Linked DNA regions of Homo sapiens. The protein of the gene in region 1 purifies or fractionates together with the protein of each later gene. This does not show direct contact. Each region holds a gene or a part of one and is shown in the gene's direction. Other genes may lie near its edges.

The links.
Region 2: the proteins of PCDHA4 (region 1) and LONP2 purify together in Homo sapiens (affinity purification with mass spectrometry; 2 studies listed by BioGRID and IntAct, with this or other methods). This does not show direct contact.
Region 3: the proteins of PCDHA4 (region 1) and CACNA1C purify together in Homo sapiens (co-immunoprecipitation; one large-scale study listed by IntAct). This does not show direct contact.
Region 4: the proteins of PCDHA4 (region 1) and POMT1 purify together in Homo sapiens (affinity purification with mass spectrometry; 2 studies listed by BioGRID and IntAct, with this or other methods). This does not show direct contact.
Region 5: the proteins of PCDHA4 (region 1) and EIF2AK3 purify together in Homo sapiens (affinity purification with mass spectrometry; 2 studies listed by BioGRID and IntAct, with this or other methods). This does not show direct contact.
Region 6: the proteins of PCDHA4 (region 1) and SYNGAP1 purify together in Homo sapiens (co-immunoprecipitation; one large-scale study listed by IntAct). This does not show direct contact.
Region 7: the proteins of PCDHA4 (region 1) and LTAP1 purify together in Homo sapiens (affinity purification with mass spectrometry; one large-scale study listed by BioGRID and IntAct). This does not show direct contact.

The regions. Positions count from the first base shown.
Region 1 is NC_000005.10:140,981,236-140,985,507, forward strand, and holds part of PCDHA4 (protocadherin alpha-4 isoform 1 precursor), read left to right. Parts: intron 1-1,239; coding exon 1,240-1,328; intron 1,329-4,272. Other genes in the region: PCDHA1 (protocadherin alpha-1 isoform 1 precursor), read left to right, coding at 1,240-1,328; PCDHA2 (protocadherin alpha-2 isoform 1 precursor), read left to right, coding at 1,240-1,328; PCDHA3 (protocadherin alpha-3 isoform 1 precursor), read left to right, coding at 1,240-1,328; PCDHA5 (protocadherin alpha-5 isoform 1 precursor), read left to right, coding at 1,240-1,328; PCDHA6 (protocadherin alpha-6 isoform 1 precursor), read left to right, coding at 1,240-1,328; PCDHA7 (protocadherin alpha-7 isoform 1 precursor), read left to right, coding at 1,240-1,328; PCDHA8 (protocadherin alpha-8 isoform 1 precursor), read left to right, coding at 1,240-1,328; PCDHA9 (protocadherin alpha-9 isoform 1 precursor), read left to right, coding at 1,240-1,328; PCDHA10 (protocadherin alpha-10 isoform 1 precursor), read left to right, coding at 1,240-1,328; PCDHA11 (protocadherin alpha-11 isoform 1 precursor), read left to right, coding at 1,240-1,328; and 4 more. UniProt on the Homo sapiens protein: Calcium-dependent cell-adhesion protein involved in cells self-recognition and non-self discrimination. Thereby, it is involved in the establishment and maintenance of specific neuronal connections in the brain.
Region 2 is NC_000016.10:48,267,994-48,272,265, forward strand, and holds part of LONP2 (lon protease homolog 2, peroxisomal), read left to right. Parts: intron 1-2,022; coding exon 2,023-2,281; intron 2,282-4,272. UniProt on the Homo sapiens protein: ATP-dependent serine protease that mediates the selective degradation of misfolded and unassembled polypeptides in the peroxisomal matrix.
Region 3 is NC_000012.12:2,059,156-2,063,427, forward strand, and holds part of CACNA1C (voltage-dependent L-type calcium channel subunit alpha-1C), read left to right. Parts: intron 1-4,272. UniProt on the Homo sapiens protein: Pore-forming, alpha-1C subunit of the voltage-gated calcium channel that gives rise to L-type calcium currents. Mediates influx of calcium ions into the cytoplasm, and thereby triggers calcium release from the sarcoplasm.
Region 4 is NC_000009.12:131,508,943-131,513,214, forward strand, and holds part of POMT1 (protein O-mannosyl-transferase 1), read left to right. Parts: coding exon 1-80; intron 81-800; coding exon 801-866; intron 867-960; coding exon 961-1,054; coding exon of another isoform or gene 1,055-1,199; intron 1,200-1,317; coding exon 1,318-1,473; intron 1,474-2,394; coding exon 2,395-2,525; coding exon of another isoform or gene 2,526-2,530; intron 2,531-3,098; coding exon 3,099-3,194; intron 3,195-4,272. UniProt on the Homo sapiens protein: Transfers mannosyl residues to the hydroxyl group of serine or threonine residues. Coexpression of both POMT1 and POMT2 is necessary for enzyme activity, expression of either POMT1 or POMT2 alone is insufficient.
Region 5 is NC_000002.12:88,571,965-88,575,464, reverse strand, and holds part of EIF2AK3 (eukaryotic translation initiation factor 2-alpha kinase 3 isoform 1 precursor), read left to right. Parts: exon of another isoform or gene 1-18; coding exon 19-799; exon of another isoform or gene 800-951; intron 952-3,500. UniProt on the Homo sapiens protein: Metabolic-stress sensing protein kinase that phosphorylates the alpha subunit of eukaryotic translation initiation factor 2 (EIF2S1/eIF-2-alpha) in response to various stress, such as unfolded protein response (UPR).
Region 6 is NC_000006.12:33,447,509-33,451,138, forward strand, and holds part of SYNGAP1 (ras/Rap GTPase-activating protein SynGAP), read left to right. Parts: intron 1-321; coding exon of another isoform or gene 322-334; coding exon 335-425; coding exon of another isoform or gene 426-428; intron 429-1,280; coding exon of another isoform or gene 1,281-1,295; exon of another isoform or gene 1,296-3,630. UniProt on the Homo sapiens protein: Major constituent of the PSD essential for postsynaptic signaling. Inhibitory regulator of the Ras-cAMP pathway.
Region 7 is NC_000001.11:154,210,511-154,214,782, reverse strand, and holds part of LTAP1 (protein C1orf43), read left to right. Parts: intron 1-208; coding exon 209-326; intron 327-836; coding exon 837-890; intron 891-2,158; coding exon 2,159-2,325; intron 2,326-2,404; coding exon 2,405-2,463; coding exon of another isoform or gene 2,464-2,467; exon of another isoform or gene 2,468-3,322; intron 3,323-4,272. UniProt on the Homo sapiens protein: General regulator of phagocytosis. Required to uptake Gram negative bacterium by macrophages.

The DNA.
Region 1 (4,272 bases):
ATTTTAGAAATTTAACTTTCAAGATAAGCAAATGTCTAGTTTAAAAGGGTCCTCTAGTCTAGGTGTAGTGGCTCATGCCTGTAATCCCAGCACTTTGGGAGGGTGAGGCAGGTGGATCACTTGAGGTCAGGAGTTCAAGACCAGCCTGGTCAATATGGTGAAAACCTGTCTCTACTAAAAATACAAAAATGAGCCAGGCATGGTGGCGGGTGCCTGTAGTCCCAGCTACTTGGGAGGCTGAGGCAGGAGAATTGCTTGAACCTGGGAGGCAGAGGTTGCAGTGAGCTGAGATCGTGCCACTGTACTCCAGCCTGAGTGACAGAGTGAGGCTTTGTCTCAAAAATAAATAAAATAAAACAAAATGTTCCTCTAATTTTGATGAGGGTTTTCTTGGACATTTTCTCTTAGGATCCCACTTATTTCTTCCTTCCTTTCTTCCTTCCTCCCTTCCATCATTCATTCATTCATTCATTCATTCATCCAACAAATATTTGAGAGATTAATATGAGTTAGTATTAGACATACATAAATGAATACTGCACCATGTTCTCTTTTCCCTTGAACAGTTTATGTTCTATCTCTGCTTGCCTCTAAAGGTCTCCCAGTTTGTATCTCACTCCCAGCAATGTTTTATGCTGAATTAATCTCTTCTGAGCGGGGATCTGTGAGTGGTGGTGATCAAGTTTCTCTAGTCTCAGGAAATATAGGGTGGGTCATCTATGCATAAAAGATATAGAAAGAGTAAAATAGAAAATAAGGTTAAGAATTAATTAGATAGCCAAATTGGAACAATACTCCAATTATCAGAAAATATTTTAGTGTGTTTTCTTCTTTAGAGTAGAGAACCTAGGAACAAGAGAACCTGCAAGAGAGGCTTGGAACTTTTGAGAACAAGCCCTCCTCATCTGCTTCAGTATCGAGATGTTAAAATGGCTTAGTCCTCTGATGGGCTTCCTGTTAGATTTAGTGAGCGCCACATGGCGTTAATAAAAAACAGAATTGCCATAAAGATAGAACATGTGTGTTCCTGGAATAGTATAGCAGGCAATAAGTAAGTCAGCAATGCTTCTGCAGTTTATGCAGGGTGACTGCTCAGCAGTAATTGCTTCAGTTCAAGCATGAGCAGAATGTGTTAGCTGCAGCCCTGGCTTCATAGTTGTAAGCAATTTCTGAGGGTGGAAGAAGAGATGGGAAAGAATTTATGATCTAACCGTTATCTGGGTCTGTGTGTTTATTCAGCTCTGTGCACCTAGAGGAGGCTGGCATTCTACGGGCTGGTCCAGGAGGGCCTGATCAGCAGTGGCCAACAGTATCCAGTGCAACACCAGGTAAAGAGCTGGGGTCTCTCCATTCTTTCTTGGTTTCTGGAAAGTGATCAGATGACCTACTTTTGTAAGATCAGGAATGTTGATGGCTCTTTTTCTTTTATATTTTTGTTATTCCCTTTTTTCCATACATACATGATTTCCTTACATATATGATTATTTTGATTTTATACCTAATGCTCTTCAGGAGTTGAAAAAGGATAACAAGGAAAGTGTGTGTGCACGCATGTGTGCATGTGTGTGTGTGTGTATGAAGTTTTTGGGGTTTGTTTGTTTGTTTAAATCAGGTACCTTTCAAATGCTTAGGTCATCCAAGCCATGCAGAGAAGATCTGGTGGCCTTATGCACAGAGATGACACTGTTAACAAAGATCTTTTGGTTGAAGACTATGGAAACCCACCCAAAGTAGTAAGGAAAGAAAGAGAAAAAGAAGGAAAGAAAGAAAAAGGAAGGAAGGAAGGAAGATGGTTTCTCATGGAAGTGGAAAATTATCGGAACCAAGGCATTGTTTTGAGTTCAAGTCAAAGTCAATCTGCTTCTCTCTGCACATCAACAACATTCTGCAGACTGACTTTTAGTGCCTTGGCATGCATGTTGCCAAACATGACCGCCTCACAATTTCTTAGTTTAGAGGGATAATAGGGACTATTTCCTAATCCAAACTTTCAGGAAAGAGAACCTGCTAAGTTGTGTAAAAAACCTAATGGCTGGGTGAGTATAGGAAAATTGCTTAAACTCACATTTGCTTGGTATCCTTATTCTTGCCCTATCACTAAAGCAGGGTCATGTAATAGAAATATGGCTTTGGAGGCCCATCGCTGTGGCAGTTTTCAGAAAGGGAAGATTAAGTGTTGGTAGAGACCACAAATTGTGTCTACTCTAATCCTCTATTAATAGAACATCATGATGATAATAGTAGTTACTAATTATTAAGCCATAATATGCCTAGACACTGTGCCAAGTACATTGTATGTGTGGTCTCATTTATTCCTTAAGTCAAGCTTGCAAGGGATTTATTACATCTATTCTACATATGAGAAACTGGAGAGGCAGAGAGATTAAGAAATGTACCCAAGTTCACGTAGCTTGTAAGTGGCAGAGGGTAGGATTCAAACCCAGATGTGTTTAGTTTCAAATCCAAGTATATCTAGCACTTATATTCATAACATGGCTGGCTTGCAATAATCCATTCAAATTCAAATACATATCTACATACATAACAGATGACAGAATGTGTGTGTAAAAGGTTTTTTCCCAAAAATAATCAGATGCCTTTCAAATTATTAAGTAACATGCAGCTAAGGGCCCATTTTTACTGGCAACTTTAAGGGCATTCGTTGATTCTAATCAGCCAGGATTTGCTATTTATGGATGTTGCACAATTCAACTAAAAGTCACATTTGTCCAAAAAATATACGAGTTGAAGCAATTCATTAGAGAGCTAATATTGCCAGATTGCAAGGGGAAAAACATAAAATAGTTCATTGACAAATCTGTACCCTCAGTGCCAACGATGGAGTGAAGAAATGATGGAGGAGGAAGTGGTTTTAGACTGCCAAGTGTTGCAGGATGTGGAGGCATCTGGGAAGGTGAGAACTTCCCAAAGAAGCCACGTGAAATCATGACTTTCTACCTTGCCTTTATTTCAGAGTTTTTCTTGCTCTTATGGAGGCATTGTAGGTCGACCTGGTAAGCCACAAACTAACTTTGAATACATTCTCCCTCCCATTGGTGATGCTGGTTGGTGTGTATTCCTAGGCAAATGTGGAATAGGAACCATGTATTGATATTTCATACATCTGGCCAAGTCCCTCTTTCAGATTCAAAAAATGTTGAGAACCTATCTTTTTTACAGAGATAGAGAAGGGGATCTCCCTTGTTCCCTTTCTTACTGTCCCAGCCCCTCTTGTATAACCCATTTTATCCAGAACTGTGCCTGGCTGCTGATGCATGAGTCACAGTCTTCATGGACTGTGCTGGATAGAGCTTACATCTTCCAACTACTCCATGGCAACCTAATCATACTTTTCAATACATACCTCTGCATCAGTGGTGTAAAGTTAAAGGGATTCTCTGCCTTCTCCCTGTCCTTCTGGTACTTTTAGGTTTTTAGGACTCAATATATGTTCTGCACTGCTTGGAGGGAATATGGCATAAAGATTAAGATTATGATTTAGAGTCAGATTTGAGTTGAATTCTAATCCCAAGCTTACTTGCTGGGTGAGCATAGACAAACTGCCTGAATTCATATTTTCTTAATTACCCTTTCTGTAAATTGGGTGTAGTAATAATAATAACACCTATTTTATTGAGTTACCATGAGAACTAAAGGAGAAAAAAAGAACTGAGCATAGTGCTTGACATATAGTTAATAAATGTCTAATCTTTTTTTTTTGAGACAGAGTCTCGCTCTGTCCCCCAGGCTGGAGTCCAGTGGCACGATATCGGCTCACAGCAACCTCTGCCTCCTGGGTTCAAGTGATTCTCCTGCCTCAGCCTCCTGAGTAGCTGAGACTACAGGCGTGTGCCACCAAGCCTGGCTAATTTTTTGTGTTTTTAGTAAAGACGGGGTTTCACCGTGTTAGCCAGGATTGTCTCAATCTCCTGACCTCGTAATCCGCCTGCCTCGGTCTCCCAAAGTGTTGGGATTACAGGCGTGAGCCACCGCGCCTGGCCTAATCTTCTTACTCTTTTTTCTTTCTGGACTACTTTTCTGCAATCTATGATATAGTGTTGGCTGATAGCCTGGTGGCCAGAATTCAGTAGTTCTCATTTGCAGGCCCAGATATAGACCCTCTGAGGTTATCTGGGTCTATATAATCCAGTCACCCCAACTGTTCCCCTGGAAATGGAGTGAGGAGGATTTATTAGTTGCTGCCTGAAGAAAAGGGAAATGCTCCAAAAAATTTGGTTGTTTCCAGACTCAAATAGAGCCTGCCTTTCATTG
Region 2 (4,272 bases), on another chromosome or scaffold:
CAGAGAGGAAAGAGTTGTAGGAAATATGTTTGCAGATTTTCCCAGCTTAGAGGAGTCAGTAGATACCATTTCAATCTTCTAATTATAAATAAGGAAATTTATATTGAAATTTGAAAAATTTTTTACATGTAATCACATGTTATTCAAAACAGGAAGCATGCTTTCTGAATCATTAAAGAGAATAATTAGAAAAATATATCCTGTATAGAAAAGATAGAAAATAATTTATACAGCATGGAAATCACCTTTACTTAAAAGATTGAAAGAACTTTTAAAATTGTCTTTACTTGGCATATTTCTTGCAAGAAATTTCTTCACAGTGTTTTCAGTCTTTTCTAAATTATCTTGACTTTTATTCTTACCTTACTGAATGTGTTAATCATGAATGGATAACGCATTATAACAAGTACCTTTTTAGGTACAAGATGATATTTTGATGGAAACTTACTCTTCTTGAACATGATGACATTGATGACCTAACACTGAACCATGTTTGCATAACTAAAATAAATCCCACTGGGACTTAGTATATTATTCTTTATAGATTTGATTTACTAGCATTTTAATATTTACAGCTATATAAAAAGATTTGTCTGAGGTTTTCTTTTATGTTTACTGTGGTAGGTTTTAGTGTCAGGGCTAGCACTGTGAAACAATTGAGAAACTCTCTATCTTTCACTTCTTCATATATTCATTGGTTGGGTTCTGGAGCCAGGAAAGGGGGAAGAAATTTTAGTTGTTCTTCTCCTACTTCACTCACCTAGGACTCTGACTAAAATCAATAGTACTATAATTAAATTATATAGTTTACTGCTTAGCTAGGTTTTTTGGGGGACTAGCTTGGGAACCAAATTACCATCTCAGGCCATTTTTTTCCTTTATGAAATATCCTTAGCAAATTCTAAATAATTAATTAAAAGATATGTATTAATTAATTAAAAGATTTCTGTGTATTTCTCTCTCCCATCTTCTTCTTTCACTGCCAGCATGATCAGGTGGCTGTGTATTATACCCTGGCAGCCACCCAGCTAGTGAATTCATTTTGGCTTCTGTTACCTGGTGTTTAATCTGAGTATTTTAAATGCTAAATCTTATTAGTAAACCTGTTGAAAGCTTGGCTCTAGAAACAAAGCCTAACTCATACACTTCTGGTGAGACTTTGATACAACTTTCTGTGTGGCAATTAGGCAATTCTTTACATCATCTGTTTTTTTTTTTTTTTTTGACCCAGCACTTCTGTTCATAGAAGATAAGCTGAAAGAAATCATTGCAGATATATGGGAAGATTTAGTTCCAGTGATGCACAGTTGAAGCATCTTTTATAAATGTAAAGATGTGTAAACAACTTGAATGCTCAGCAGTAGGGAATTAGTTAAATGAATATAGATAATTTAGTAATGGAACATTAAGTAACCATAGAATGTTACTGATAAATATATGTGTGACAGTGAAAGTTGTCTGTCATATATTAAGTGAAAAAAACATTTTACAAAACTTAAAGGCCCCATAAAATCCCATTTTGAAAAATAGGTTTGTAAATGCACGCACACAGCCTGGAATTACACATACTGAAGTAAAGGTAGTGGTGATCTCTTGGGGGCATGAGATTATGGGTAACTGTTTTCTTCTTTTCTGTTAGTGTTATCAGGTTTTCTGGAATGAACATATGTTACTACTGAAATAAGGAAAAAAATCACCCTTTTTTTTAAAAAACAAATGCCAGCACACATACAATATGTAGAAATTAAGAAGTAATGCATAACTAGAAAATCATTCCAAATAAAATGATATGAACATTGAGTTTTTAATTGTGTAGTGCCTACTATCTCTGGGGACACTAAGTCTTAAGCAGAGAAACCAAACCAAATGCAGATCTCCTAGAATCCTCATCTAGAAAGATCCAAGTCTGTTCTTATCACATCTATTTTCAAAAAAAATATTTTGCCCTCGTCATGCTTGAAAGGAGTTCTTTAACTTAAAAATTTTATGTGTTCTAATTATTTCTGTTGGGTTATTTGACAGACCGCCTGGACATTAGGGCAGCCCGGATTCTTCTGGATAATGACCATTACGCCATGGAAAAATTGAAGAAAAGAGTACTGGAATACTTGGCTGTCAGACAGCTCAAAAATAACCTGAAGGGCCCAATCCTATGCTTTGTTGGCCCTCCTGGAGTTGGTAAAACAAGTGTGGGAAGATCAGTGGCCAAGACTCTAGGTCGAGAGTTCCACAGGATTGCACTTGGAGGAGTATGTGATCAGTCTGACATTCGAGGACACAGGTAGAACACTTCTCTCAGTTTAATCTCTGATTCCTCTTTCTTTTTAATTGACTAGAGCTCCCTAAAAGCTTAGGCATAGCATACATCTATTTTCCTTAAAGGGCTATGTGTGGTACCTTGAATGAAAAGGACATTTACAAGAAGTATCAGCTAGCCTAGAGCCTCTAAGCGTAATGATAAACCCAAACTAACCTTGATTTGTATGACAGTGGATACTACTCTGTGCCTCAACTTTCCTGGAATCTCATTTGAATGTAATTATAAGTTATTTATGATTGGATATTATTATGTCTTTACACTCTTTTCAACCCAGTAGCATGCCATAAATAATGATCCCTAACTCTCAGAGTTAAAAAAAGTAACTGCAATAGGGAGGGCCAATAGGAGGAGGTGAGAAGTCTTTGATAACAAACTTGTTCTGATTGCAGTCTAAACTTCCTCTTATGAAGGTTGGTTTGTATTATGAATATGAGTAATAAGGATAAATGTTAGCATAATTATTAAGGCTTATTCTTGCATTTTGGACTCACTTTCTATAAAAAAACAATAAACTGTAAGAACTGTCCCTCTAGGCTGGGCACAGTGGCTCATGCCTGTAATCCTAACACTTTGGGAGGCTGAGGTGGGTGGATTGTTTGAGCCTAACAGTTTGAGACCAGCCGGGGCAACATAGGGAAACACTTTTGTCTCTACAAAATTTATATTTAAATTTTTTAATTTTAAATTTTAATTTTTGTCTCCACAAAAATTAAAAAATTATGCAGGCACAGTGGCATGCACCTGTGGTCCCAGCTACTCAGGAGGCTGAGATGGGAGAATCATTTAGGCCTGGGAAGGTCCAGGCTGCAGTAAGCCATGATTGTCCCACTGCACGCCAGCCTGGAGACAGAGACATTATCTCAAACAAACAAACAAACAAACAACAACAAAACTGTTTCTGATTAATCTGACATTATTAGAATCAGATTTGCATGTTGCATTCATTGTTCTCACTGGTCTCTTTGTTGATCTGATGGAAATTGCCTTGGGAAAGCATGAATTTACATTTCGTGGTTTAAGGGATTCATAGCAATTGTAAGTTGTGAGAAAACATACCTATAGTGTATGTGTTAAAGAACATGTTTAAATGTAGGAACCATGAACTGCTTATAAAAGAATATGATGCTTTTTTAATATCTTGTTTTCTATGTGCCTTATTCAAAGGGATCCCTATCCATAGACAGGGATGGGAAACTGTTTCAGAAACTTTTCTATAAGAAATGGTTATTTTTATTCTCTTTTATTTGCTCACTTAAAATTCTTACGCATTTAAAAAGTATCATTACTGGCCTTGTGTAGTAGCTCATGCCTGTAATCCCAGCACTTTGGGAGGCCAAGGCAGGCAGTTGCTTGAGCTCAGGAGTTCAAGAACAGCCTGGGCAACTTGGTGACACCCCATCTCTAAAAAAATAATAATAATAAATTTTAAAAAAGACTCATCACAAGATTTTAGTAAATAAACAATGAGGCGTGCAGATCAGAGTAGAGAATTGATTTGGGTGATTTCTTCTGGCAATTTCAAAAGATATTTTTGTTGCCTAGACTTCTTATTCTTGCATGTACCACTAGAGGCTATAGTTTGCTTTCGTAAAGGAATTGGCATTTCTCTTGGACCAAACTCAAAGAAGCTGCGTCTAGGGCCTAAATCTTCTAATTTTAGCTACAGAGTAAGTATTTGATGGCATTTAGAGAGTGAGTTCGTGGAATTAATGCTATGTGAAATTGACATCATAAGCACGTGACATGTAGGTAATTTGTTCTTATTTCTTTTCACATTGGTATTGATTATTTGATAAGGCTTGGAAAGCACTTATTCAATACCTGACACACAGTGAGCATTCACTAAAAATTAGCTTTAACCATTATTTAAATTCTATTAATAAATTCTCAGGAGGACAAATTTAGATTTACAAGCTTCAGTATGAGTTTTTATAAATTTCAATCTGATTTTT
Region 3 (4,272 bases), on another chromosome or scaffold:
GATGGGGAGCCCAGGATGACCCCACAGAAAAGCAGAGCTGTGAGATGGCTGGAGCCTCCGAGAGCTGAGATGCAGAAGGTGAGGGGAAGCCAGAGGAGCCCCAACTCCCTAGGGTGTCTGGGAGGGTTTGGGGAACAAGGTCATCAGGGTAGTCAGTTACTCCTTGTGGAGCTGAACTGAATTTAAGTTGGGATTGTAGGGACTGTAGGAGAGAAGTTTGGGCCTGGAGCTCAGGAGTCGGACCGAGGTTGAAAATAGACCCTTCCTTCCCTGGAAGCCGAGGGAACTAGAGGAAGGGTTCATCTGGCTGAAGCAGAGGGTGAGGAAAGCGGGGGTTAACTGGCAAGAAACCCAAACCTCTCAGCCCCTCCCCTCCCCAAAACCCCACAGAACAGTTCTCTGCAAAACACCTTCACTTTAAAATGGGCTTCTTGTGCTATACCCTGTGTGTATAGGGGGCAAGGGGCTAGGCTCTGGTTCGTTAAAGGGTTTGTCAAACATAGAATAAATGTAATGTCTCTTTGGGAATTTACTTTCTAGGATCAGGACATTTTATGGGTAAAGGAACCTTAGAGACAATCCTCATTTCCAGTTGAGAAAACAGAGGCCCCTAAAGGTTCATGGAGGCAGGGATGTAACTAAATACAAGGTCTTCAGTCTCTTCATCCTCCTGCCTGTACCACACTTGGTGCTGGCCCCCTGAGAGAGCATTGTTAGTGCTTCTGGCTAAATTTTGCTTGGTAGATCTTTCAACCTCTCTATTCTTCCTCCCCCTGCCTCCACCTTTGTACTGCCTTAAAATAATTTCTGCGATGTTAGATTTAGGAATGGAGTTGGAAGGGTGGGGTGGGGGAAATCTATCATTGGAAAGGTTTAAAAACACTTTCTTAGGCTACAGAGTAGAAGTTCATACATGTCCACAAGAAACTCCTGCAAAATTCAGATCACGATTTTGTCTGCAAACAGATCTGCCTCTAAGCCTTTTTTATTTGCTCACTTCCTCTCGGCCCCAATCTAGGCTTGTTTCAGCCCCTTTGCGAGAGTGGGATGGGGATGGGAAGCCGGGCTGTGCTGTGGGACTTCCCTGGTGAGCTGCTGGGATTCTTCATGGACCAGCTGGCATTACCAGTAGCTGGGGTATAGACACACAGATCAGCCCCAGGGTAGAGACTGTGAGACAGGCTGCCACAGACTCCACCTGAGCTGGGCGACCAAGGGCGTCTTTCTGCTCCCATGTCAGGGTTGGTCTCCTAGGACCCCCGGCCTACTCCCAGGAGACATTCCCAGCAGTGGTGGTAGACTCAGCCCATGGAAGAGAATCACTAGGACCTGCCTCTGACATTCCCATCTTCCTTGAAGTGTTCATTGGCTGACTTGTTTCATACTCTTTCAAGTCATCTCTGAGAAACTGGAAGGCCTCTGAGGCTGACTCGGTCTAGCTTGAAGACGGAGGCATGAGCCAGGCTCATGCTTAGAGATGTGGCTTTTGAGTTCCCTGGAGGAAGCCATCATTTCAGAACATAGTGTTGTGATAATTTCATGAAATATTCAAGCTGCCAATTTGCCAACAGGGGTTTCTTTTAATACACTCGGCTACACTTGGTGTTGCCCACTTGAACCTAGCTAAAAGGAAAATAAAATAATCTTGTCTCCTGTCCTTTAGAGAACCAAGCCAAAATCTAGACAGTGAATGAATGTTCTTCTCCATATTGCCTGTGGGCAGAAATGTTGACTTGAGTACTCAATTAAGCTCTATTTACTTTATAACCATTGTGTCATGTACAGTCATTTATATTCCTTTCTTTCTTCCAAAATAATCTACGTTGGGCTAAAACCTTTCAAAGACATTAACAAAAGTAACAAAGTAAATAGCTAAAGAATAAATAAGGCTGTAGGCTAGAGAAATGACTTGGGTCTTGGGTCACATTCTTTGACTTCATCTCTTTCTCTGAGAGTTCAGAAGGAATCAAATCCCTTTTTTTTTTTTTGTCTGTAAAGTGGAGATAATAATCCTTAGCCAATTCACTTCGCAGGGCAGCTGTGAGGATCCAAATAGGAGAATGAGTGTATATCGCTGTTCAAACATCAGCTACTCTTATTCTCCCCATCAGCGAGCAGAGCACCAGAGTTTGGAAAAGCAACGCCATGAAGTAACATTCACAGCATTTCAAACAACTTTGGAGGTGTTGTGGGAGGGCTGACATTATTCAATATTTTAAAGGTGAAAATGTAAAACAAAGAGAAACCAGAGTCTGAGGTGGTCTGGCTGATACCAGAATAATCAGGGAGGAAGTGAACCATTGGTTGAGATGGGCCTGGTATTTTGCCCTCCAGAGAGTCTAGGAGCCTGTGGCCAGTAGGCTCCCAGGACGGTGGAGCCATGTGCACTGCTGGCACTGCTGCTGTTTCCAAGCTGAGGGTGAGGACATGGGGATGCAGGGTATCCGACGCCTGGCAGCTGTCCACCTGCCATGCTGCTGTCCCCTCACTGCCACCACACATGGCTGCCTGGCTTCGGCCTCAAGTCCAAAGCCACGCTGGCCTGAAGTCCTTTCATGGCCTGAAAATAGGGCCATTGAGGGCAGGAAGAACACCACCTGGGCAACCAATGTCTCCTCACTTTTGAACGTGAATTCCCCAAACCTAAACCCAACTTCCCAGTACAGGAGGACGGGCTGGAAAATAAAACTTTGCTTCAAAAGTAAACTTTGGGTTTGGAAAATAAACTTATTTATTTTTCATAGCCAAAATGTTGCAGGTTTGGAGATAGAGGGGACAGTTCTGTGTAGCTCCCTAAGACACTGATCAAAATAGGAAAGAGCTTTAACATTATAGTCTAAGTGACAGGATTAGTTTTAGTTTCCCAAAGCAAAAATAATCCCATCATCAAAAAGTATGCTGGGAAACTTTCGCACTTTCGCATTTGTTTGCACCTTGTTCTACCCCCAGCTCTGGTCCTGTGATCTGTGGAGCCATATATGTTTTAATTTTTCTCTAAAGAAAAAAAGCTGTATTGAGGTATAACATCTACCTTGTTATAATTTTAAAATAGAGCAAGAGTAATAGCCACCATTTATTGAATGCCTAGCATGTGTTAGACAATGTTCTTGGTGCTTCATGTGCTTAATATGTTTTATCCTTACAGTAATCCTACCACGTGGGTTTTAATTATATTTTTTAGATAAGGAAACTGAGGACCAAAGTCTTAAGCAATGTGGCCACAGCCACCCAGACAGTGTTGGGGCTGGGAATTAAATTCAGGTCTGTCGGACTTTCAAAACATTTGCTCTTTCTGTTACTTCTCCCCATGGAGAACAGTAGAAAGAGAAACCCACTATCTCTCTATCCTGGGAAAATGACCTTGTCCTTGCCTTCTGGAACCTGGCTTAGATTTGCCTTGTGGAAGCTCAGAGCTGGAATCCTTGTTCTTACTTGATGGCTGCATGTTGTCGTGGTACCCCGCCTCCCCTCCTGGTCCCGTCCTCTGGCTTTCTTTCCCCTTATTCCCAGGGTTTCTGCCAGGGCCCTCCTTGCTTCTTCACATCTCCTCACAGGCCTTCACAGACCACCTAGGTCAGTACACCTTGTCTCCCGGGGGACCCATTTGTGGCATGGCCTTGCTTCACCACCCATTCTTGGAATATTTCCTCAGTCACTCCCTCCAGGAAAATAGACACTCTCCATTCTCAAACGAGATTCCCGTGAGTCCCGGGGACCATCCCTGTAAGCTGAGCTCTCCAGACTTCATGCATTATTTATTTATTTATTTTGAAATAGCAGCTTTGTTGAGGTATAATTCGCATACCGTAAAATTTACCCTTTTGATGTGTATGATTCAGTGGTCTACCTACTTCCCCAATATTTTCATCACCCGCAAAAAATACCCTTTACCCATTGGTAGTCACTTTTCATTCCCCTCTCTCTCCAGCCCTTGGCAACCATGAATTTACTTTTGTCTCTATGGATTTTCATGTGTTATTGACAGCAATAATAATTCCTTTTTTTTTTTTTTCCTGAGGTGTAGTCTCGCTCTGTCACCAGGCTGGAGTGCAGTGGTACGATCTCGTCTCACTGCAACCTCCGACTCCCTGGTTCAAGCGATTCTCCTGCCTCAGTCTCCTGAGTAGCTGGGACTACAGGCACCCACCACCATGCCTGGCTTATTTTTGTATTTTTAGTAGAGATGGGATTTCACCATGTTGGCCAGGATGGTCTCCATCTCCTGACCTCTTGATCCACCCGCTTGGCCTCCCAAAGTGCTGGGATTACAGG
Region 4 (4,272 bases), on another chromosome or scaffold:
CTTTTGGAATCAGTGTTAATATTTTTCAATCTATTGGCCGTGTTGTCCTACCTGAAGTTCTTCAACTGCCAAAAGCACAGGTATGGAAAATGGAGTGTCTTCCTAGTTAACGAGAACAGAGATTCTGGGTGGTTTGTTGATCTGAGATGGTCCAGTACCTTTTTTTGTTTCGTTTTGTGAGACAGTACCTTTTCATTTTGAGGAGTTGCTTGCTAAATATCTTTTTTTTTGAGACGGAGTCCCTGTCACCCAGGCTGGAGTGTAATGGCGCAATCTCGGCTCACTGCAACCTCCGCTTCCCAGGTTCAAGCAATTCTCCAGCCTCAGTCTCCCGAGTAGCTGAGATTACAGGCACACAGCACCATGTCTGGCTAATTTTAGTATTTTTAGTGGAGACGGGGTTTCACCATATTGGCCAGGCTGGTCTCAAACTCCTGACCTCAGGTGATCTACCCGTCTTGGCCTCCCAAAGTGTGGGGATTACAGGTGTGAGCCTCTGCGCCTAGTGCTAGATATCTTTTGGTCCTCTAATATTTTGGGGGTTGGCCCTTGGCTTGTGACTTCATAAATACATCTTCATTTTTCTATAATTTAAACTAACAGGACAACATTTTCTGGGCAAAAAGAAAAATTCTGCTGGGATGGATACTTTGGGAGATGGGAATTCTTTCTTACTGCCCCTGTGGCTCAGCATGGCCAGCCGACCCAGAAAGATTTCTCTGAAGAATGTGGAGCTTCACTAGCCTTTTGGAAATGTGTCTGAACTATTTCTGTCTCCATCTGCTTTGTTTTTATTCCAGCCCTTTTTCTCTGAGCTGGTGGTTCTGGCTAACACTGACAGGGGTCGCTTGTTCCTGTGCAGTGGGGTGAGTTTGAGCCTCTGGTCTTGGGCAGTGTCCTCCTCCATCTCCTTATGTTTTCCTGTCTCATGTTAACTCCATTTCTGTCATGTCTTTGCAGCATCAAGTACATGGGTGTGTTCACGTACGTGCTCGTGCTGGGTGTTGCAGCTGTCCATGCCTGGCACCTGCTTGGAGACCAGACTTTGTCCAATGTAGGTGCTGATGTCCAGTGCTGCATGAGGCCGGCCTGTATGGGGCAGATGCAGATGTCACAGGGGGTACTTGGTGAAAAGACTCCAATCCTCAATGTTTTAGAAGCAGGCAGGCCTGGGCAGCCTCGCCTCTTGGCCTCTGCAGGTGCCTCTGTATGGGAGGCCAGAGTTTCTGTCACTAACTTTTTCTAAGCTCACAATGTCTAGAGGTGGGTACGCTTTTCCACGCAGTGGAACATGACTTTTCTTTGAATCTCTGGCAGGTCTGTGTGTTCTGTCACTTGCTCGCCCGAGCAGTGGCTTTGCTGGTCATCCCGGTCGTCCTGTACTTACTGTTCTTCTACGTCCACTTGATTCTAGTCTTCCGCTCTGGGCCCCACGACCAAATCATGTCCAGTGCCTTCCAGGCCAGCTTAGAGGTAAGTAAGCAGTGGGCATCGTGGCCACTGGAGAAGGAAGATGATAGTGGACCCAGAGTTTTCTTACAAACACATCAAGTGAACATTAGCACTTGAATCAAAACATGAAGAATCCACATCCATATTTCTTTTTTTGGTGGGGGGGATGGAGTCTTACTCTGTCACCCAAACTCCGCCTCCTGGCTTCAAGCGATTCTCCTACCTCAGCCTCCCAAGTAGCTGGTATTACAAGCACCTGCAACCACACCCAGCTAATTTTTTTGTTTTGTTGGTAGAGATGGGGTTTCACCATGTTGGTCAGTCTGGTCTGGAACTCCTGACCTCAAGTGATCCGCCTGCCTCGGCCTCTCAAAGTGCTGGGATTATAGGCGTGAGCCACCGCGCCTGGCAGCTGGGAGCATTTTAAAGTCAAGTCTTACAAACCCTGGGCAGTTTCACCCGCCTTAAGGACCACACTCAACTGTGACCTTCATTCCTATGAACCTCGCAGCAGTGGTAGAAGGTATCAGTAGAGGTGGTCAGGACTGTGGTTCCTGAAGTCAGCCAAGCCTGCCGACGGCCAGTGCTGTAGTGCTGTGTGTTTCAGCAAGTTGTTTGGCTCACCCTAGTCTTGGTTTTCTCATCTCTTAGACAGACATCATCATTGCTCTTACCTCATTGGATGCTTGTAAGGACTGAATAGGGTGCGCGTGGAAGGCTGAACTGAGTGCCTGGCCCAGAGGCAGCATTTGATCAGACTTAGTGCTCATTATGGTTCTATAATGTAACGTGATGTGATTAAATGGGAGATCATTACCACTGTTACAAGAATGGCCACCAGCCTAAACATCACCCCAGAGGGAGGAGTGGCCATCGGGAAGGCTGGCTTAGGGTCATTTTTCTTTCTGTCTCTCACTCATCAACCTTCTGCTTCTGTCTCAGGGAGGACTAGCTCGGATCACTCAGGGTCAGCCACTGGAGGTGGCCTTTGGGTCCCAGGTCACTCTGAGGAACGTCTTTGGGAAACCTGTGCCCTGCTGGCTTCATTCCCACCAGGACACCTACCCCATGATGTAAGGTGATGGTTTTACTTTGAAGATAATTAAATGCTTTATTTGCTCGTAGATTTGCTTATCTTAGCAACTTTCCCTTTCTTTGAGGAAGTTTGTTTGCAGGACAGAAAGAAGTTGAGCAGCCCGGGTGCTGATTGCCAGTGAGCTTCGTGGTTCCCGGGTGTTGCTGGAGGGACTTGGCGTGTGGCAGGGCCCAGGGTCGGCCCCAGCTCTGTGGCTGTGGCTGACCTCAGCACTGCCTGCCTGAATCATCTGATTTCGGCTCCTTGTCTGTGGTATCTTCATTTTCCCTGAAACCCCTTGCTAGGTTGTATTTGTTGAAATCTGCTTCCCTTTGCAGAAACTTTAGGAGAAAGGCGTGTGGGCCCGATCGATGACCCACTTCCAGATACGTTTCTTTCCCTTTCTTTTCTTTTTCTCATAAATAGACACAGGGTCTCACTATGTTGCCCAGGCTGGTCTCAAACTCCTGGGCTCAAGCAGTTATCCTACCTCAGCCTCCCAAAGTGCTCTGATTACAGGCCTGAGCCACCGCGCCTGGCCCAGATACATCTCTTTGTTGACTTCACACAGATATGAGAACGGCCGAGGCAGCTCCCACCAGCAACAGGTGACCTGTTACCCCTTCAAAGATGTCAATAACTGGTGGATTGTAAAGGATCCCAGGAGGTGAGTGCAGGTCCTGTGACTCCAGAGCAGAGCTCACCTCCTGGCCTGGCCAGGCGAGACCCTGGGATGCAGTCCTGGGCCCCCTTCTTTCCCTCCCTCACTGACTCTAGTCACCGTCATGGCCTTGAACACCAGCTCAGTGCTGAGTCCAAGGTCAGAGGAATAGATCATGAGACCCTCAGTGAGCAGCCTGCTCAGTAGCTGCTCTGAGAAGTTTCCAGGCGAGCCTCAATGCCCCGACCTGTGTCCCTCTCCCTTCCTCATAAAAACAAGAACCCCCCTCCTGCAAAAGTAGCATCATCTTGCACACATCCCAGCTAGAGGTGCCCCTTGCTCTCATTCCCATATCCAGTCCTGTGGATTCTGCCCCCAAACAAGGTCTCTAGCTGTCCCGGTCACTGTCTCCTGATGGTGTCCTCCCATTGCTGCCTGCCCAGCTCCAGCACCTGCAGCCCGAGTGGGCTTTTTCTTTTTTTTCTTCTTATTTTTTCGGGGGACAGAGTCCCACCCTGTTGCCCAGGCTGGAGTGCAGTGGTACGATCTCGGCTCACTGCAACCTCCGCTTCCCGGGTTCAAGTGATTCTCCTGCCTCAGCCTCCCGAGTAGATAAGATTACAGGCGCCCACCACCACATCCTGGTAATTTTTGTATTTTTAGTAGAGACGGGGTTTCACCATGTTGGCCAGGCTGGTCTTGAACTCCTGACATCAAGTGGTCCACCCAGCTCAGCCTCCCAAAGTGCTGGGATTGCAGGTGTGAGCCACCACGCCCGGCCCCCTCATACACTTTCATTGGTGGAATGCCCTTCAGAAGGATTCCTTGGCAGTCATGGTACATTTGTCACTGTAGTGTTTGTAGACAAATTCAGAGCAATGCAGGTGTGATGACCGCGGGTAGAATCACATTCGGAAAATGACCTTTGGTTTCAGAAAAGAGCCCAATTAATGTCTGTGCTTTGGTTTCCTGTGTTCACCTCATGTGAGGCACACATGGGTTGGGAGGCAGTCTCAGCCATGAGAATTCAGAGCTGTGCCCCTCCGGTGCAGCTGTTAGTTCGAGGGGACCAGGCTCTGTGTGG
Region 5 (3,500 bases), on another chromosome or scaffold:
TATTTCTCCCACTTTTAGCACAGACTGGCCACTCAGCTCTCCTAGCCCAATGGATGCACCATCAGTTAAAATACGCAGAATGGATCCTTTCGCTACAAAAGAACATATTGAAATCATAGCTCCTTCACCACAAAGAAGCAGGTCTTTTTCAGTAGGGATTTCCTGTGACCAGACAAGTTCATCTGAGAGCCAGTTCTCACCACTGGAATTCTCAGGAATGGACCATGAGGACATCAGTGAGTCAGTGGATGCAGCATACAACCTCCAGGACAGTTGCCTTACAGACTGTGATGTGGAAGATGGGACTATGGATGGCAATGATGAGGGGCACTCCTTTGAACTTTGTCCTTCTGAAGCTTCTCCTTATGTAAGGTCAAGGGAGAGAACCTCCTCTTCAATAGTATTTGAAGATTCTGGCTGTGATAATGCTTCCAGTAAAGAAGAGCCGAAAACTAATCGATTGCATATTGGCAACCATTGTGCTAATAAACTAACTGCTTTCAAGCCCACCAGTAGCAAATCTTCTTCTGAAGCTACATTGTCTATTTCTCCTCCAAGACCAACCACTTTAAGTTTAGATCTCACTAAAAACACCACAGAAAAACTCCAGCCCAGTTCACCAAAGGTGTATCTTTACATTCAAATGCAGCTGTGCAGAAAAGAAAACCTCAAAGACTGGATGAATGGACGATGTACCATAGAGGAGAGAGAGAGGAGCGTGTGTCTGCACATCTTCCTGCAGATCGCAGAGGCAGTGGAGTTTCTTCACAGTAAAGGACTGATGCACAGGGACCTCAAGGTCTGTATTTGTGGAGCATCACCCTTGGGGTTTCAATCTGACGTTTTGTGATTCAGAGCAGTACTTGCAGTACTCTGAAGGATCCTTAAGAGTTGGGGAGAGTAAAAGCATCTGAGAGCAGAGGTCTGAGAAAGTAGCCTCGAAGGGGCCTGCTGCAAGAATAAGAAGTCTTATGTCTGAAAACTTTAGGCAAACCATGCATTCATTGTCTTCAGTAATGTGTTTGTGTTCATTTTACTGTAAAAGGTATTCTCAGTAGTCCAGGTGAGGGAAAAAAAAGAAAAAAGAATCTTTAGGTAAAATCCACCATGAGCAGATATAGCCTGTTTTTTTGTTTGTTTGTTTGTTTTTGTTTTTCTATGGTTTTGAGTAACCCTGACACCAATACCTCCAGGGCTCTGAAGCAGCATGGTGAAAGGGATCCGAATGGAAGGAGAGACATGGGTTCCTTCATTAGCCAGCTTGAATTGGGGCAAATCTCCACACTTTTGCTTCTTTTTCTGAACTGTTTAGACTTTGGGGGAAGGGGTAAGAAGCCGAATGGGGAAAGGTAGCAAATAGTTAACAGATGACTGTTTACAGCTCTAAAACCTTGGATTCTATTTTCAATATATTCAGTAGTGAATTTTGCAGTAATATAATATGCAAAATTATTAAAGAGTCTTACTAAAACATGACATTTCCGTAGTAGTGTTTCTAAAAATAAGTACATGGAACTTTTATTTAACTAATTTCCCACATTCCATATACTCTTAGCCATCACCAGTAGATGTGGAGTGAATGTATAAATACTTTTCTGATGAAAGTAGCTTAAAGTCTTGATAGATGTGGATCCATTTTAAGTCTTTTCAGACTTAAAACAGACTTGTTTCAGGCACAAAAGTAGCTATTTGGACACAAGTTATTTTCTTCTAAAATCAGCAGTAGGTTTTCAAATTCTTGGGTATATTTTAAGAGTTTTAGGGTAACAAGAATAGGAATTAGAAATAATTCTTATTTTTTAATATAATTGTTATTTAGTCATATAAATCATTATGCTTCAGTGATTTTGACGTGGGCCCAAACTGATTGCCAAGAATTGTTCTGCACTGAATGAAAAGTTCAGAGATGAATTATTTGGTTGGATTGGAGAAGACAGTTTACAGGAGACCACACACCCCTAATTTGAGAGAATACTAGCAGTTAGGTTTGAATATAGTAAACGCTTATCACTAGGTGGGAAACAGCTAGCTGAAATACACATTCTTCTTGTACTTAACACTTGCTGTACACACAAATGCCAACTTGAAAGACAATGAATCATGTTTTCACTAATAATGAATATTCTTCTGCTAATTTTATAATGTAAATGAGATATTGGTAAATATCCATTTAATGCTACAATGTTGTCTAAAGATTTTTCTGTAATTGTCTATGCACCAGAAAAATTGCAAGAAGAAAGTTAATATTCCTGTTAGTTTTTCTAGAAATCAGAAAGTTTTATTCCTTTCTAAATAGAAGACAATTCCTTTTAAAGATTTCTAGTGCGCCACCCCCAACCAAAAAAAAAAAAAAAGCCAAGATTTTTGTTCCTGGGTGAAAAAGCTGTACATTTTGCTACGTTCTGACCTAAATCTTTGAGCTCAATGTTAAACCTTCTAGGCCCTCTCCCCCTGTTATATTTTGGTCACATTTTTGTCTTCAGGACTTTGGCTCCTGCCTCTTCAGACTAACTTCTAGTCTTCTATTTTCTCCACTCTGAACTTTTCTCAGTTCCTCTTGATATACACTGTTCTGACAGAAACCTGGTCCTTCTTCATTATTCTCATCACACCTGGATTATTTATTCTGTGGTTTCTATGGGGTATGAACCATATCTGTTTCTTTTACCTGTTATAGTCTCAGTACAATGCCTGAATGTTCTAGATGGTCATACCATTTATTTTGAATTTTATTTTCTTTGCACTCAAAAGTGTTTATACTGACTTAACCAGAAAAGGAAATCTGTTGGCCCACATGGCTAAACTGTTGAGAATTCAGGTAAAGCTTTAGCTGAGATCAAGTGATTTAGCCAGAACCTGGTTTCTGTCCTCCCCATTTCTTGTTTCTATTTAAGTCTTTTGGAGTTGGTGGGGTAGAGGGTGGAGAGAAAAGTATTGCTTTTTCCCACTATCAGAAATTTTATTCTACTTAAACCAAGGACACCTACCCATCCCTCAACAATCCCTAGCCAGGCAATGGGATTCCATGGATTGGCGTAAGCAACTTTTAGAGCATGGATGCCTTCCACACTAACCGTGGGGTTTTGCTGCACAGTCAGCAAGAAGGAAGTTCCCAAAGTAAAGTCAAGATACTTCTGCTGGAAGCACAGGGAGATAGATACTGGAGAGCCAAAAAGCTTGTCTATTATAGGGTTCAGTAAATAACAACTGCCATCAGATGTTGGGAGTTGGGAAGAAAGATGACATTTAATGCAGGATAGTCTATTATTGCCTCTGGTACAAAGTTATTTATTGGAGAGCTGCAGATTATTACCATAGATCTTATACACAATAACTTCATGCTTCCAAGTCAAAATCGTTTAATGGTATTTTAGAGTTTGGGAATGCAATGTTATTTTCTGGCAGTATTTGAAACATGATGAAATTCAATTTCATGAGCTAAATGGCTTCCTTTTTCCTCATTTCAAGGGCTATGAATGGTGGTCATATTACCCGCAGAG
Region 6 (3,630 bases), on another chromosome or scaffold:
GTGACATGGGGGATGCAGAAGCCAGGTCCTCAGCCATGGAAGGTCTGGGGAAGGGGCACTGCTGTCCTGATTGGGACGATGGAGGCCTGGAGGTGTCTGGATGGTAGAAGTCTTTGAGGCACAGAAAGCTGCCTTAGCAGGGAGGTGTAAGGGTTCCTGGGAGGAAGGTGGAGAGCATGATCCTGAGGAACAGGGAGTCTTGCATCACGGCAATGGAGGGACTCTGATTCTAAGGGATAAGGATGCCTGAGGTTTTTCCAGAGAGCTATGGGGTTCCATGGGCAGGCTCTGAGCCTGTGCCCGCCACTAACCCCACTGAAGCCCGTCCCTTCAGGCTGATGCTGGTGGAGGAGGAGCTGCGCCGGGACCACCCCGCCATGGCTGAGCCGCTGCCAGAACCCAAGAAGAGGCTGCTCGACGCTCAGGTGGAAATTACAATGTCATTTATCTTCTCCGTGTCCCATCCCCATCCATCCCACTGTCTTTCGTGCACTCACTACACCAGCCACCTAGCCCCATCACCATCTGTCTCTCATAGTCTGCTGTTTGTCCACTGGCTGCTCCTGGCAGCCCCCTAGTGACCCCATCTTCATCCCATCGTCTGTGCCTTTGTCACTCCTGGCAGCGTCAGCCCAACTCCTGTGCCTTCCCATCCAGTCTTCCCACTCCTCTCTGCATCTCAGGACCTTCTCTACCAGAACCTTGGTCTTTCTGCCCCTAGACCCCACCTAGTTCCAAGAACCCCTGCCCCTTCTTTGCTCACTCCTATTCAAGCCACGTTGTTCAGCTTCCTCTGCGCTCTTGGGCCAGAGGGCTAGAAGCTGCCGTTTTCTGGAATAGAGCACAGGGCAGTATGATCTGTAGTTTCTCCAGGCCCTGGCCGGTACCCTGAAAACTTGGGGACCCATCACCTCTGTTCTCTTGGCTCCCTAATTTTCCTGTCTCCTTGGCAGCTCCTGCATAGCTTCCTCTTCCTGACTCTTCAGATCTTGAAGGCCTTCCATCCTGTAACCTCCCTTTGCCCTCAGTATTTAAGTCCAGCCTCCCTCTGGCCTCCCTCCCACTCTGGCCCTCAGACCTTCCCAGCTGCCTGCTGCCCAGCCTCTCTTCTCACAAGCCAGCTTCTAGGACCTCCCTTCTGCACCCTTACCCCTTGCTTTCCCAAAATTCTGCTCATTTTCCTACCCATACTCCTCTTTGCTCTGACTGCTAGGCTCCCCCCGCCTGCCATCCCCCCACCAAGGCTCCTGACCCCATGACCCCACTCTCTCCCACTGCAGCTCCTCATCAGGTAATTCTCCTGGTTCCGCTTTGGCCACGGGCGGAGGACACAGGGGGAGGTGACTCCGGACCACTGCAGGTTGGTCGTGAAGCCCACTCCCTCCAACACCTCCGGAGCCTCTCCCCTCTCACTGCTGCCCTCCACACCCAGAGAACCTCCACAGACTCCAGCCCTCCGACACCTGCACAGATCCATCTCCCAAGACACCACCCAAAGAGAGCATTTGCTGCTGCTTCCCAGAACTGTCCAACAATACCTTAGCAACACCAAGAGTTGGGCCCTAGATGGGCCCAGCACATTCACAGGTCACACCCACTTCCCTGCAAAACCCACCCCCTCCCAGCCTCCTCCTGACTCTAAGCCCTCCTCTTCCTCTACCTCTCCAGTGTATGTCTGTCACCCCCCATTTCACCAGAGCGTCCTTAGGGGCTGGGGGTGGGTTTGTTAATGGGGTGGAGGCAATGATGGGTTGGAGGATCTTGGCTATAGGGGCTGTGCTGACTGCAGCAGGTAGGTTGGGTTTCCCTCTTCCTTCCCTAATCTTGGTTCTCTACCCTCCTTTCCACTCCTCACCTGATTCTCTCTCTTCCTCCTCCTTATATCTGTGAGGCAGAAGGCATCTGAAGCTCATATTAGCCCCCATTGGGTGGGAATTAGGAGTGGGTAGTTAACTCAGGGAGACTTGAGATACCCTGGAAAAAATGCTATTGAGATGTCCTGACATTAGGCAGGGTGGATGGAACAAGAAGGAGCAAGAAAGGAACCTCAGGCAGATGTTAGGACATGGACTTGATCATGTGGCCTGGGAGTTTAGAAATGGGGAGAGACATCCTCCTAGATCAGATCGTGGGCTCAGTAGGCATGTTGATTCCCAGGGAGAGGTGCCAGGAACAGCATGGTAAAGAATGTACTCTTCACAGCTCACATCCCCAGGTTGCTGATGCCACTCACTCCCCCTCTCCTGCCATCGAGTGGCCTTGCCGGACACATCACCCTACCTAAAAAGCCAGTAAATGAGAACCTGTCAGCTATAGCCATCATTTCTGAGATGCGATTTTCTTTGGGATTGAGCTGCAGTGGGCAGTGGCTCCTTACACTGTAATTTTAATTCTCTGCCTGCCCAGCCTCTCTGTCAAAGTAGCTGGTGATCTATAAAGATGCTAAAAGGCACCAGGGGACTTTGCCATTTAAAGGACTCCTGCAGTGAATTCTTTTGTAAAATGAATAATGGCACCCTAATTTATCCACTTTCTAAATTTGGGTCCATGGGGGTGTCCAGGGCATGCTTATGTGCTGTCACCAGCAGACAAACAGAGGGAATGGAATCTGGGGGTTCCTTCCCTGCTCTCCCGCCATACTCAGGATACCCTACCATAAGTGATTTCCTCTCACTGACTTGCAGAAAATGTGTGAGATACCCAGCAAGCTAAGAAGGCAGTTTTGCTGGGTATCTCATACCCAAGGCTGGGGTTTGGGTGATCTGAGAGGTTAGCTCCTTGATCCTAGGATGGAAGGGAGAGCTTATATAGAAGCTTTTACTTGGAAGGTTTTGTATCCTAAGGTCAGACATAGCTATATTACCAAGCCTAAATGCCATGTGGCCCAGGAAATAATTTGGACATTTGTTCTAAACCACTTGTGGTAGGTATTGGTCTCTCTGCAACTCAGCCATTAATTAGAAATTAGTTTTGAGCCTGAATTTTAAAAAGCCAAGTGTTGCCCCCAGCCCACACACACACACACGGACATGTACAGTACAAACCCCAGATAATTACAACAGCCAAAGAGAGAAGGAAGTGAATTTCCCAACCAGAAGCGTAGGGAAATTCAGATGGCTTTCTTTTCTCCCAGCAGAGGAACAGAAGGCGGAGCTAAGGGCAGGAACCAGGAGTTGGTCAAGGAGCTATAGGAGGTGATGAGAGTAGAACCAGGGGTAGGAGCTGGTCTGGTACCCCTCACCCTCTAATTGGGAGCCCAGGGAGAAGGACTGAAAAGAAGATGGGAGTGGAAAAGAATAAAGCCAGTTTCTGCTTCCCAGGGATGCAGAGATTGGGGCATGCTGTGTCTGCAGAAGCTCCTAGTCATTTCCGCCATAATTGTGAGAGAGAGGGGCAGCCCTCCCACAAGATTTTTCCCTTCCCATATCACTTCCCTGAATCCCCTTCCTTTCCCCCCAGTACAGTTAAACCTCTCTCTAATTTGGAATGTTATATTTGAGAAGATGGCCACTGTGAATAAGTGACAAACGGAATGACAGTGTCTATTTAATGAAATGCATGTCTTCAAAATATATACAGAACTCGATGAACAAGGCTTTTTCCACTCCTCAGGGAGCATGCATTAATGAA
Region 7 (4,272 bases), on another chromosome or scaffold:
TTAGAGATGTGCAGCTTGGAGAGGTTATTGGAAAACCCAATCCCGTTCTTTCCTAAATTCTTACCTCTTATCTGGTAATTTTATTAACTACATGAGCATGGTCTCTATTTCTGTTGTCTTAGTTATTCATTAACTCTGCCCCATTTTCACATTGGTGGAAAGCAGAGTGCAGGGTAAATGATTGTGTATTCTTTTTTTATGTGAACAGGACTTGAAAGAGGAGATTGATATTCGACTCTCCAGGGTTCAGGATATCAAGTATGAGCCCCAGCTCCTTGCAGATGATGATGCTAGACTACTACAACTGGAAACCCAGGGAAATCAAAGTATGTGGCAAGCTCTTGGAATGCTTCAGTGAGGAGTCCCACAAGTCCAGAATTCCTTTTCTCTCAGAGTTGTCAAAAGCTGCTGGCAAAGCCTTAGTTATTCCTGTTATTGGATATATGTTAGATGCAGAGCCCATTTATTAGCTTGCTGGAGTTTGGGGAATTTTTTTTTTCTTTTTTGAGATGGAGTTTCACTCTTGTTGCCCAGGCTGGAGTGCAATGGTGCAGTCTCAGCTCACTGCAACCTCCACCCCCTTGTTCAAGCAATTCTTCTACCTCAGCCTCCTGAGTAGCTGGGATTACAGGCATGCGCCACCACGCCTGGCTAATTTTGTGTTTTTACTAGAGACGGGGTTTCTCCATGTTGGTCAGGCTGGTCTCAAACTCCTGACCTCAGGTGATCCACCCACCTCAGCCTCCCAAAGTGTTGGGATTACAGGCATGAGCCACCACGCCCAGCCTGGGGAATATTTTTAGGGTTATGCCTAACACCAGTCTTTTCCTCAACAGGTTGCTACAACTATCTGTATAGGATGAAAGCTCTGGATGCCATTCGTACCTCTGGTAAGGGCTACCTGACAGGGTCCATTCTAGGATCCTGAAAGCCCACCTAGGGAACAGAGTAATGAACCCACTTTGTATGTTAGGATTTGTCCTTTCTGCACATCCCTGGCTAGTAGGAAATTCTAGAGTTTTGAAAGTACTAGATTAGAGATTTTGCTGAAGGAAATGATATAAGCAGGTTATTCTCCAAAGAGTCTGGGTGTTTTGTTTTTTAAAGTTCTTCTCTTGAGACCTTTAGTTTCATGAAGTAGATGATAGTAATTTGCTTGTTTTTCCACAAAGGACAGGTGGCACCTGCTTTTTCACTAAGCCCAAGATAGATTGTTCTTGAATTTTTTCCATTCTGTCAACACTTGTCATATATGCTTTATCTCTATGAAAACAGTTTATATCTTAAACCTAGGATGGATGAGTAAGCAGGATGGTAAAATGTGTGATGACACTATCATGTGTCATAGATGTAGCTTACAACTGTGGTGTTACCACCAAATGACCACTCAGGCACAGCTTTATACCTTTGGTCTCAATCAGAATCTCCCTCTAACTCAACTTGCTCATTTCATTAGACCTATTTCTTTTTATTTTTGAGACGGAGTCTTGCTCTGTTGCCCAGGCTGGAGTGCAGTAGCACGATCTTGGCTCACCACAACCTCCACCTCCTGGGTTCAAGCGGTTCTCCTGCCTCAGCCTCCCGAGTAGCTGGGATTACAGGTACCTACCACCATGCCTGGTTAATTTTTGTATTTTTAGTAGGGACAGGTTTTCACCATGTTGGCCAGGCTGGTCTCAAACTCCTGACCTCAGGTGATCTGCCTGCCCCGGCCTCCCAAATTGCTGTAATTACAGGCGTGAGCCACTGCGCCCAGCTTCATTAGACCTACTTCTAAGTTTGGGGAATTAACTAGAAAGACTAAAGAATGGGGCAGGCGCAGTGGCTCATGCCTGTAATCCCAACGCTTTGGGAGGGCGAGGCAGACAGATCACAGGAGGCCAGGAGTTCAAGACCAACCTAGCCAACAAGGTGAAACCCTTTTGTATTTTTGTCTCTACTAAAAATACAAAAATAAGCCTGGCATGGTGGTGCACATCTGTAATCCCAGCTAATCAGGAGGCTGAGACTAGAGAATTGCTCAAACCTAGGAGGTGGAGGTTGCAGTGAGCCAAGATCACTGCCACTGCACTCCAGCCCGGGTGACAGAGCGAGACTCCATCTCAAAAAAAAAGACTAAAGAATGAGAAGAGATATCATTGTGCTGTTTTCTCCACAGAGATCCCATTTCATTCTGAAGGCCGGCATCCCCGTTCCTTAATGGGCAAGAATTTCCGCTCCTACCTGCTGGATCTGCGAAACACTAGTACGCCTTTCAAGGGTGTACGCAAAGCACTCATTGATACCCTTTTGGATGGCTATGAAACAGCCCGCTATGGGACAGGGGTAAGCCAGTTTTTTCTTCGGGGCACTAAAGAGATCCCTCAGACTGAGAGATCCTCACTCTTCCTTTCTCTTTCCTAAGGTCTTTGGCCAGAATGAGTACCTACGCTATCAGGAGGCCCTGAGTGAGCTGGCCACTGCGTGAGTTTGGAGGGGAACGTGTCAGAGGGAGCTGGTACAGTAGTGTTGGACTGTTGCCACAGTGCAGTGACCTTCATAAAGCATATAAACAAAATCCATGATACCATAAGAGTTGTCAGGTTCTAGACTATTAGATCAGTCTCTTACATTAGAAAGCAGATGCGGCCGGGCACAGTGGTTCACGCCTATAATCCCAGCACTTTGGGAGGCCGAGGCGGGAGGATCATCTGAGGTTGGGAATCCGAGACCAGCCTGACCAACATGGAGAAACCCCGTTCTCTACTAAAAATACAAAATTAGCCGGGCGTGGTGGCGCATGCCTGTAATCCTAGCTTCTGGGGAGGCTGAGGCAGGAGAATCTCTTGAACCCGGGAGGCGGAGGTTGCGGTGAGCCAAGATCGTGCCATTATACTCCAGCCTGGGCAACAAAAGTGAAACTCTGTCTCAAAAAAAAAAAAGAAGAAAAGAAAGCAGATGCAACTATACAAGCTAGTAAAAGAAGTTTTTACTAGCATTTTTCTTGTGTGCATTTTTCTTGTCTTTTGTTTAGCCCAATAAAATGTCAAAATTGGTGTAGCCTAGCAAAGGGAATAGTTTTTCAGCACACACAGGGATTCCTTCTCTTCAGAGTCTCAGCGTCCCTTTTGTGTCTTGGCCCAATAAAAGTAAGAATTAAATAACATTGGGCCGGGCGCGGTGGCTCACGCCTGTAATCCCAGCACTTTGGGAGGCCGAGGCAGGCGAATCATGAGGTCAAGAGATCAAGACCATCCTAGCCAACAAGGTGAAACCCTGTCTCTACTAAAAATACAAAAATTAGCTGGGCATGGTGGTGCGTGCCTGTAATCTCAGCTACTCGGGTGGCTGAGGCAGGAGAATCGCTTGACCCCAGGAGGCAGAGGTTGCAGTGAGCTGAGATCACGCCACTGCACTCCAGCCTGGTGACAGAGCAAGACTCCATCTCAAAAAAAAAAAAAAAAAAAAAAAAAAAAAAAGAATTAAATAACATCTATTTTTGGCCGGGCGCGGTGGCTCACGCCTATAATCCCAGCACTTTGGGAGGCCGAGGAGGGTGGATCACAAGGTCAGGAGTTCAAGACCAGCCTGGCCAACATGGTGAAACCTCGTCTTTACTGAAAATACAAAAATTAGCTGGGCATGCTGGCGGGCTCCTGTAATACCAGCTACTCGGGAGGCTGAGGCAGAAATCACTTGAACCCGGGAGGTGGAGGTTGCAATGAGCCGATATCATGCCATTGCACTTCAGCTGGGGTGACAAGAGCATGACTGTCTCAAAAAAAAAATAAAAATTAAAAATTAAAAAAATCTATTTTTACTACCACTTAAAGTATTAGTAACCATGTCTGAAACAAAGGCCATCGCTATAGAGTCAGCTGTTGAGCATTTGTGTCACAGGAGAGGATTCATGGCTTTTGTTTGGGAATGTTTTTAATACACACTAAACATAGTCTCGTATTTTCATGCAAATGTTAAAATCAAAGTTCTTGGCGAGAAAGGAAAGCCAATCTAGAGTAAAAACTTAGGCCGGGCGCAGTGGCTCACACCTGTAATCCCAACACTGGGAGGCCGAGGCAGGTGGATCATCTAAGGTCAGGAGTTCAAGACCAGCTTAACCAACATGGTGAAACCCCATCTCTACAAAAATACAAAAATTAGCCGGGCATGATGATGTGCGCACCTGTAATGCCAGCCACTCAGGAAGGTGAGGCAGGAGAATCGCTTGAACCTGGGAGGTGGAGGTTGCAGTGAGCCAAGATCGTGCCATTCCACTCCAGCCTAGGCGACAGA